Linked DNA regions of Homo sapiens: regions 1 and 3 are each linked to region 2. The links come from fine-mapping of genetic effects on gene expression. A gene starts in region 2. Each other region holds a variant in brackets. All regions are shown on one strand. Distances are from middle to middle. Region 1 has its middle 9.0 kb from the start of SPINK8. Region 2 holds the start of USP4 (ubiquitin specific peptidase 4). Region 3 overlaps SHISA5 (shisa family member 5).

The links.
Region 1: its variant is fine-mapped to the expression of USP4 in whole blood (INTERVAL, PIP above 0.99).
Region 3: its variant is fine-mapped to the expression of USP4 in whole blood (INTERVAL, PIP above 0.99).

Annotation. Positions count from the first base shown.
Region 1 is chr3:48,341,189-48,344,036 of GRCh38, forward strand. No RefSeq gene overlaps it. Among named protein-coding and RNA genes, the nearest start is that of SPINK8, 9.0 kb to the left of the region's middle. The variant C/T (reference allele first, on the strand shown) is at 1,178.
Region 2 is chr3:49,339,053-49,341,552 of GRCh38, forward strand. USP4 (ubiquitin specific peptidase 4) reads right to left here and starts at 1,001. Exons shown (of 22, transcript NM_003363.4): 1 at 872-1,001. The coding sequence starts at 972. RefSeq lists a silencer at 942-1,131 and enhancers at 1,172-1,671, 1,302-1,471, 1,562-1,621.
Region 3 is chr3:48,482,607-48,485,454 of GRCh38, forward strand. All of the region lies in intron 2 of SHISA5 (shisa family member 5), which reads right to left. Among named protein-coding and RNA genes, the nearest start is that of TREX1, 18 kb to the left of the region's middle. The variant C/G (reference allele first, on the strand shown) is at 1,214.

The sequences.
Region 1 (2,848 bases), 1.0 Mb before region 2:
TTGAGCATGGGAGGCAGTTTGCAGTGAGCCAAGATCGTGCCACTGCACTCCAGCATGGGTGACAGAGCAAGACTCCATCTCAAAATAAAATAAAATAAAACACTTTAAAAATCAACTTTAATTAGAGTCAGTGTTAAACAGCAAATGGGTATTCTTAGAAGATTATCCTAAATGAAATCTAAGTAGTCAGGGACAGAAAGGTTCAGAATATCTGAACCCTTTCCAGATCTAACCCACACTGCAGAATATTCCATTCCAAGTTCTCAGAAAGTGGTAAGATATAGAATGCTAAATGTGCGTGTTTATTAAAAGAAAATTATCCCAGTTTCAAAGTACATATTTAATGGAATATTTAATGTGACAAGAGAGTCTGGATTAGAAAATCATTTAAGTTTGAGACATAGAACGCAAAGGCATGGAATCAAACAACTTAGATTTTGCCATATTATAGAAAGCCAGCATATTTTTAAGATATTTAAAGACAAGCATGCTGGGCATGGTGGCTGATGCCTATAATCTCAGCACTTTGGGAGGCTGAGGAGGGTGGATCATCTGAGGTCAGGAGTTCGAGACCACCCTGACCAATGTGGTGAAACCTCGTCTCTACCAAAAATACAAAAATTAGCCAGGCATGGTGGCACGTGCCTGTAATCCCAGCTACTCCAGAGTCTGGGGCAGGAGAATCGCTTGAACAAGGGAGGCAGGGGTTTCAGTGAGCCGAGATGTGCCACTGCACTCCAGCCTGGGTGACAAAGACTCCATCTCAAAAAAAAAGAAAAAAAAGAAAAAGAAACATAAGCAGCTGAGCAGGTGGAGAAAGAAGGAGAGAGAGAGAGAGAGAGAAAAGAAGTGAGCGAATGGATAGTTAGAGCTCCACAGAATAGTAATAGTAGAGATGAAATATTAAGAAGTTTTGTTTTGTTTTTCTTTTTGTTTTGTTTTGTTTTGCTATGGAGTCTCGCTCTGTTGCCCAAGCTGGAGTGCAGTGGCACCATCTCGGCTCACTGGAAACTCTGCCTCCCAGATTCAAGTGATTCTTCTGCTTCAGCCTCCCGAGTAGCTCAGATTACAGGCGTGTGCCACCATGCCCAGCTAATTTTTGTATTTTTAGTAGAGACGGGGTTTCACCAGTTGGTCAGGCTGGTCTCGAAGTCCTGACCTCATGATCCGCCTGCCT[C/T]GGCCTTCCAAAGTCCTGGGATTACAGGCGTGAGCCACTGTGCCTGGCCTTGAAGTTTTGTTTTTTTATAAAGGTAAGAGTGATGTTTGATTATATGTTTCTATTGAAGGATTTTTTCCCTCAGTGAATCAATGCTGGACTAACATTAAAGACTAAATAATGAAAAATGACAAATGAAAATAGTTTCTAAAACGGATTTTTAAAATCTACAGAAGGATCTGTGATAAAGAGAGAAGCCAGGATAACAGCACTCAAATAAGTAAGAGAAAAGGAGTTAAGAAAAATAAACAAACAATAAAAGTGGGCAGGAATCTGAAACAGAAAAACTGAAGACTAACAAAATAGGCAATAATCATTTAGTGAAAGATAACGACTCACTATATAAGCTTAATTTCCAAAGGGATTGATTTGGTATTAGGTGCTTCAAAAAAATGATATATATATATATAATATATGTGTCATAATATACATATATGTCAATTATATACAATGCATACATATGTTACATAAAACATGTACTTCTCTAAAACAGCAGGTCTTTGAACACAGATATGAGCTGAGATGATTAGAAAGAGTAGATTGCTTAAGAGGAAAAGCACAATGCAGTGTAAATACAGCTCAGAAGAAGCCTGGATGGATTTATTATCATCCATTGGCCTCTGAACTTGATTAAAAATTGAGGAAACAGTCTCCCTAAAATCCATGTACACTCTCACTCTCTAAACTTTGACAGTTTTTTTTTTGCACGAGCAACGCAGCACTGCCACTTTGGCATTACTCTGACATGGCACTTTTCATGTTGCAATATTTTAGAGTCTGTTAGAGCTTAGAGAAGATGACAAGGTCACATTTTGGATGTGTGATGGGATAAAGGTGATCATAAAAGTCAAGTATGAGTGGAAATGTCTCAGCTTTATATGCTATATGAAAATAAGGCCAGTAACTCCGATGTTACTGTCAAGTGTTAGGTTTGCTTTCTTCTCTTAAGAACTTCATAGCCAGTGATTTCATGGTGTTCAACATACAGTGATAGGCTCAGACTCAGCAGTGATGGACACTTTCTCAGGCCCACTAATCCTTAACTGAAGACGATACAAATGGGACTGTAAGCCTGTTCATGAGCATTCAAGCGAATTATTTTCTCAACGAAAAAAAATACATCAGGCTCATCCAGCCAGGGCCCAGAGGGAAGGTGGTAGACGAACATATATTAAACATAATTCATCTGATAATTGCTTTGATGATCTCATCTAACTATAGTCATGCATCACTTAATGATGGGGATACGTTCTGAGAAATGCGTCATTAGGCGATTTCATCGTTGTGTGAACATCATAGAGTGTACTTACACAATCCTAAGTGGTATAGCCTACTATGGTACAGTGTATGGCTCTTAGACTACAAACCTGTATAGTATGTTACTGTACTGAGTACTGTAGGCAATTGTGACATGAGGTAAGTATTTCTGTACCTAAACATATCCAAACATAAAAAGGGTACAGCATAAATATGGTATAAAAGATAAAAATGGTACCATTTATATAGGGCACTTATCATGAATAGAGCTTGCAGGACTGGAAGTTGCTCTGGGTGAGTCAGTGAGTGAGTGGTGGGTGAATGTGAAGGCCTAGGACATTACTGTACACTCTTGTAAATTTAACACTGAACACT
Region 2 (2,500 bases):
AGGAGAATCGCTTGAACCCGGGAGGCGGAGGTTGCCGTGAGCCAAGATCACGCCACTGCACTCCAGCTTGGGCAACAAGAGTGAAACTCCATCTCAAAACAAAACAAAACAAACAAGATGGGTAACAATCATACTCGATGCAAAGTCTAGCCTTAGTTTTTCTACTCCTACACAATTACACCACCCAGGAATCTCTCCAGTAGTACAAAGTATTGTCCCCTCTACTAAACAATCTATTAAGATGCCTAATAACTCAGCCTGGGTCTTCTAAATTCTGGACCCTTCATCTTCTATCTAGCTCCAGGACCTAGGCTATCCTCCTCTCCCACTCCAAGACACTGCTGCCGCAAATATTTTTGACACTTGCTACCAAAATAATCGGGGTTCTCAGACATTTGTTCAGCTTCTGACCTTGACATCTGTTGGCAGTTTACAAGTTACAAAGTATCTACTTCTGATTTTCCCCTCAACCCACTGAGGTCGGTGAGCCAAATATTGCTATCCTGGTTTTAACAGTGAGGAATCCAGGTCTGTGACACCTTCGCCCAAGGTCACACGGCGAGTCCTCATGGTAAAGGGCTCTCCCCACCCTTAGGGTCCCCACCAACCTTCCCCTTCTCCACATCCCTCCTCCTGGCCCCCGCCGGGCCCGCCCCCTAGGGCTCCAAATGAACTGAGACGACACTCAGGCCCCGCCTGCGCTTTCCCAGAGCTGATCCTGGAGTTATTCTCCTGAGGGGCAGGTGTCAGGCTACTCTTCCAGGGTCACTACATACCATCCCCGCCCAGCCCCTACTCTAGCCGAGAAAAAGGAGGCCCCTTTTTCTCGGCCCCTGGTTCTGCATAGAGGAAGAGCGAGCCGGGAGCTCACCACTGCGCCCCGCGTTGGAGTGTGGTCCTCATTAAGGGTCCAAGCTCGGACTTCTGAGTCTCCGCATCCGGTCGCTCACGGCAGCCTCCACCTTCCGCCATCTCCTCCGCGGCCCCGGCCCAGCCGGCCCGGACATCCGCCCCGCGCGCGGCGTGCTATAGACCGCGCCCACGCACGCACGCTCGCGTGCCCGCCCCTGCCCCACCTCGAGCCGCGGCCTTCGGCTCCTGCAGCCGCTGTCTTTTCTCCCCTCCGCTCTCGCGCCACCTAGCTCACCGGCGAACAGTGGAGCGGAAAGGCACACGCGAGAGGGGTGGGCGGGGAGCAGCAGCTGCTACTTCCTCCCGCCCTGCCGCCCGCTACGCGGCCTTCGGGCGCCCCTTCCTCTGCTCAGGATGGCGCTACACTTCGAAGCTCTGTTCAGCCCGCCGATCTCAGGGAGTTAGGCAGCAAGCCCACGACCCATCGGGCACCCCAGCCTGGCCTTCGAGGTTATCGTGGTCCTAAATAAATGCAGGCCAGGTGCGAGAAGCCCGGTAGTTAGGTCTGCTCATTCTCACCCCTGCAATTCCGCTTTCAGCTGGAGGCCTTAGGCGAGTCAGCTGCCCAAACGTGGGATCGGGGCTCCTGCTCCAGCGGCCCTACAGGGATTTCGGGAAGTACCATGTGCACCAGCGCCTTGGGACCAAGACTCAATGGTGTGTTGTAGTCATTAACAGTCGCCTTAAACAGTCGACGCCAGAGCCACCTGGCCCACCGCAGAATTCCGTCAGCTCTTCATACTGAGCTACTTGCCAAGCAGCCACAGAGGGGCGATAGCAACAGGGGAAGGAGAGGTACTCCACATTAGTTACCCAGGCGTGTACTTAGTTCCTGGAACAAGATACAACGTCCTGAACACTATGTTTTCCAGTCGCCCCGCTCACACACACAACCCTCCTCTTGGAGGGAGAAGTAAACCCAGAGGAAAGAGGAAGTCAGGCAGTTGGTCTAGATGCGTCTCCATACACTTGTCTAACAGTCCTTGTCCTCAGAGAAAAATAAGACCTAGTTCCTGCCCTCATAGAATCTAGTAGAAAAGAAGAGATGTTACAGAAATAACCTCAATGCCTAGCAGTATGTGGTAAGTGCCATTAAAGTGTGTGAACCAGGCCGGGCGCGGTGGTTCAAGCCTGTCGTCCCAGCACTTTGGGAGGCTGAGGCGGAAGGATAGGTTCAGCCCAGGAGTTAGAGACCAACCTCGGCAACATAGCGAAATCCCGTCTCTACAAAAAAATACAAAAAATAGCCGGGCAGTGGCTCGCGTCTGTGGTCCCAGGTACTTGGGAGGCTGAGGTAGGAAGATCCCTTGAGCCCAGGAGGTCGAGGTTGCAGTGAGTCGAGATGGCGCCACTGCACTTGAGACTGGACGGCAAAGTGAGACCCTGTCTCAAAAAAAAAAAAATAAATACAAATAAAGGGTGTGAACCGGCCGGGCGCGGTGGCTCACACCTGTAATCCCAGCACTTTGGGAGGCCGAGGCAGGAGGATCACCTGAGGTCGGGCATTCGAGACCAGCCTGACCAACGTGGAGACCGAAATGTCTTAAAAAAAAAAAAAAAAAAAGACCGGGCGTCCGGCGCGGTGGTT
Region 3 (2,848 bases), 860 kb before region 2:
TCAAGGACCTCATTTTTAGCAATGAAAACTCACTTTTTTTTTTTTGAGACAGAGTCTCGTCTCTTGTCGCCCAGGCTGGAGTGCAGTGGTGCAATCTCGGCTCACTGCAACCTCTGCCTCCCAGGTTCAAGCGATTCTCCTGCCTCAGCCTCCTGAGTAGCTGGGATTACAGGCATGTGCCACACACCCGGCTAATTTTTGTATTTTTAGTAGAGATGGGGTTTCACCATGTTAGTCAGGCTGGACTCGAACTCCTGACCTTGTGATCCACCCATCTTGGCCTCCCAAAATTCTAGGATTACAGGTGTGAGCCACCGTGCCCGGCCTTTTTCTCTTTGACACAGGGTCTCATCTGTCACCCAGGCTGGAATGCAGTGGTGTGATCACAGCTCACTGCAGCTATGACCTCCCGGGCTCAAGTGATCCTCCCACCTCGGCCTCCCAAGTAGCTGGGACTACAGGCACATGCCATCCCACCTAGCTAATTTTTTTTTTTTTTTTATTGATCATTCTTGGGTGTTTCTCGCAGAGGGGGATTTGGCAGAGTCATAGGACAATAGTGGAGGGAAGGTCAGCAGATAAACAAGTGAACAAAGGTCTCTAGTTTTCCTAGGCAGAGGACCCTGCGGCCTTCAGCAGTGTTTGTGTCCCTGGGTACTTGAGATTAGGGAGTGGTGATGACTCTTAAGGAGCATGCTGCCTTCAAGCATCTGTTTAACAAAGCACATCTTGCACCGCCCTTAATCCATTTAACCCTGAGTGGACACAGCACATGTTTCAGAGAGCACAGGGTTGGGGGTAAGGTCATAGATCAACAGGATCCCAAGGCAGAAGAATTTTTCTCAGTATAGAACAAAATGAAAGGTCTCCCATGTCTACTTCTTTCTACACAGACACAGCAACCATCTGATTTCTCAATCTTTTCCCCACCTTTCCCCCTTTTCTATCCCACAAAACCGCCATTGTCACCTTGGCCCGTTCTCAATGAGCTGTTCGGTACACCTCCCAGACGGGGTGGTGGCCGGGCAGAGGGGCTCCTCACTTCCCAGTAGGGGTGGCCGGGCAGAGGCGCCCCTCACCTCCCGGACGGGGCGGCTGGCCGGGTGGGGGGCTGACCCCCCCACCTCCCTCCCGGACGGGGCGGCTGGCCGGGCGGGGGGCTGACCCCACCACCTCCCTCCCGGACGGGGCGGCTGGCCGGGCGGGGGGCTGA[C/G]CCCCCCACCTCCCTCCCGGACAGGGCGGCTGGCCGGGCGGGGGGCTGACCCCACCTAGCTAATTTTTTGAATTTTTTGTAGACATAAGGTCTCACTATATTGCCCAGGTTGGTCTGAAACTCCTGGACTCAAGTGATCCTCCTGCCTCAGCCTCCCAAAGTGCTGGGATTACAGGTGTGAGCCACTGCACCCAGCCAAATACTAATATTTAAGAAGAACTTTTTATGATGTCTGGGATTTGCTTTAAAATAATTCAGAAAAAGAAAAGTGGTGGGACATATATAGCACAATGGTGTCAGAGTATTGGTAACGGGAAGTGGGTGATGGATGCATTGAGTTATATTGTTCTCTCTGCTTTTGTACTTATTTGAAACTTTCCAAAATTAGATGTAAAACAAAATAAAATGTAAAAGCGTTATAAACAATTATACCCTAATACACTTGGAGGAAAACCAGTAAAGCTGAGGAGAAAATATTTTTTAAGAAATATGTGGGCTGGGTGCGGTGGCTCATGCCTGTAATCCCTACACTTTGGGAAGCCGAGGCAGGCGGATCACCTAAGATCAGGAGTTTGAGACCAGCCTGGCCAACATGGTGAAACCCTGTCTCTACTAAAAATACAAAAATTAGCGGGGCGTGGTGGCACCTGCCTGTAATTCCAGCTACTCAGGAGGCGGAGACAGGAGAATTGCTTGAACCCAGGAGGCGGAGGTTGCAGTGAGCTGAGATTGTGCTACTCCAGCCTGGGCGACAGAGCGAGACACTGTCTCAAAACCAAAAAATAAAGAAGGCCAGGCACAGTGGCTCATGCCTGTAATCCCAGCACTTTGGGAGGCCAAGGCAGGCAGATCACCTGAGGTCAGGAGTTTGAGACTGGCCTGGCCAAAATGGTGAAACCCCATCCCTACTAAAAATACAAAAAATTAGCCAGGCGTGGTGGCAGGTGCCTGTAGCCCCAGCTACTCAGGAGGCTGAGGCAGGAGAATCGCTTGAACCCAGAAGGCAGAGGTTGCAGTGAGCCGAGATGGCGCCACTGCACTCCAGCCTGGGCAATGAGAGCAAAACTCCATCTCAAAAAAAGAAATCTGAGGCCAGGTGCAATGGCTCGTGCCTACAGGCATGTAGTACTTTGGGAGGCCGAGGCTAGAGAATCGCTTGAGCACAGGAGTCAAAACCAGACTGAGCAACATGGTGAGACCCCTTCTCTACAAAAAATACAAAAGTTGGCTGGGCATGTGGTCCCAGCTACTCAACAGGCTGAGGCAGGAGGATCACTTGAGGGAGGTAGAGGCTGCAGTGAGCCGTGATCATGCCACTACACTTCAGCCTGGGGGACAGAGCAAGACTCAGTCTCAAAAAAACGAAAAGAAATAAAGAAAAGAAACCAGTGTGAGACCGGGCACGGTGGCTCACGCCTGTAATCCCAGCACTTTGGGAGGCCAAGGCGGGCGGATCACCTGAGGTCAGGAGTTCAAGACCAGCCTGACCAACATGGAGAAACCCCGTCTCTACTAAAAATACAAAATTAGCCAAGCGTGGTGGTGCATGCCTGTAATCCCAGCTACTAGGGAGGCTGAGGCAGGAGAATCGCTTGAACCTGGGAGGTGGAGGTTGCAGTGAGCCAAGATCGTGCC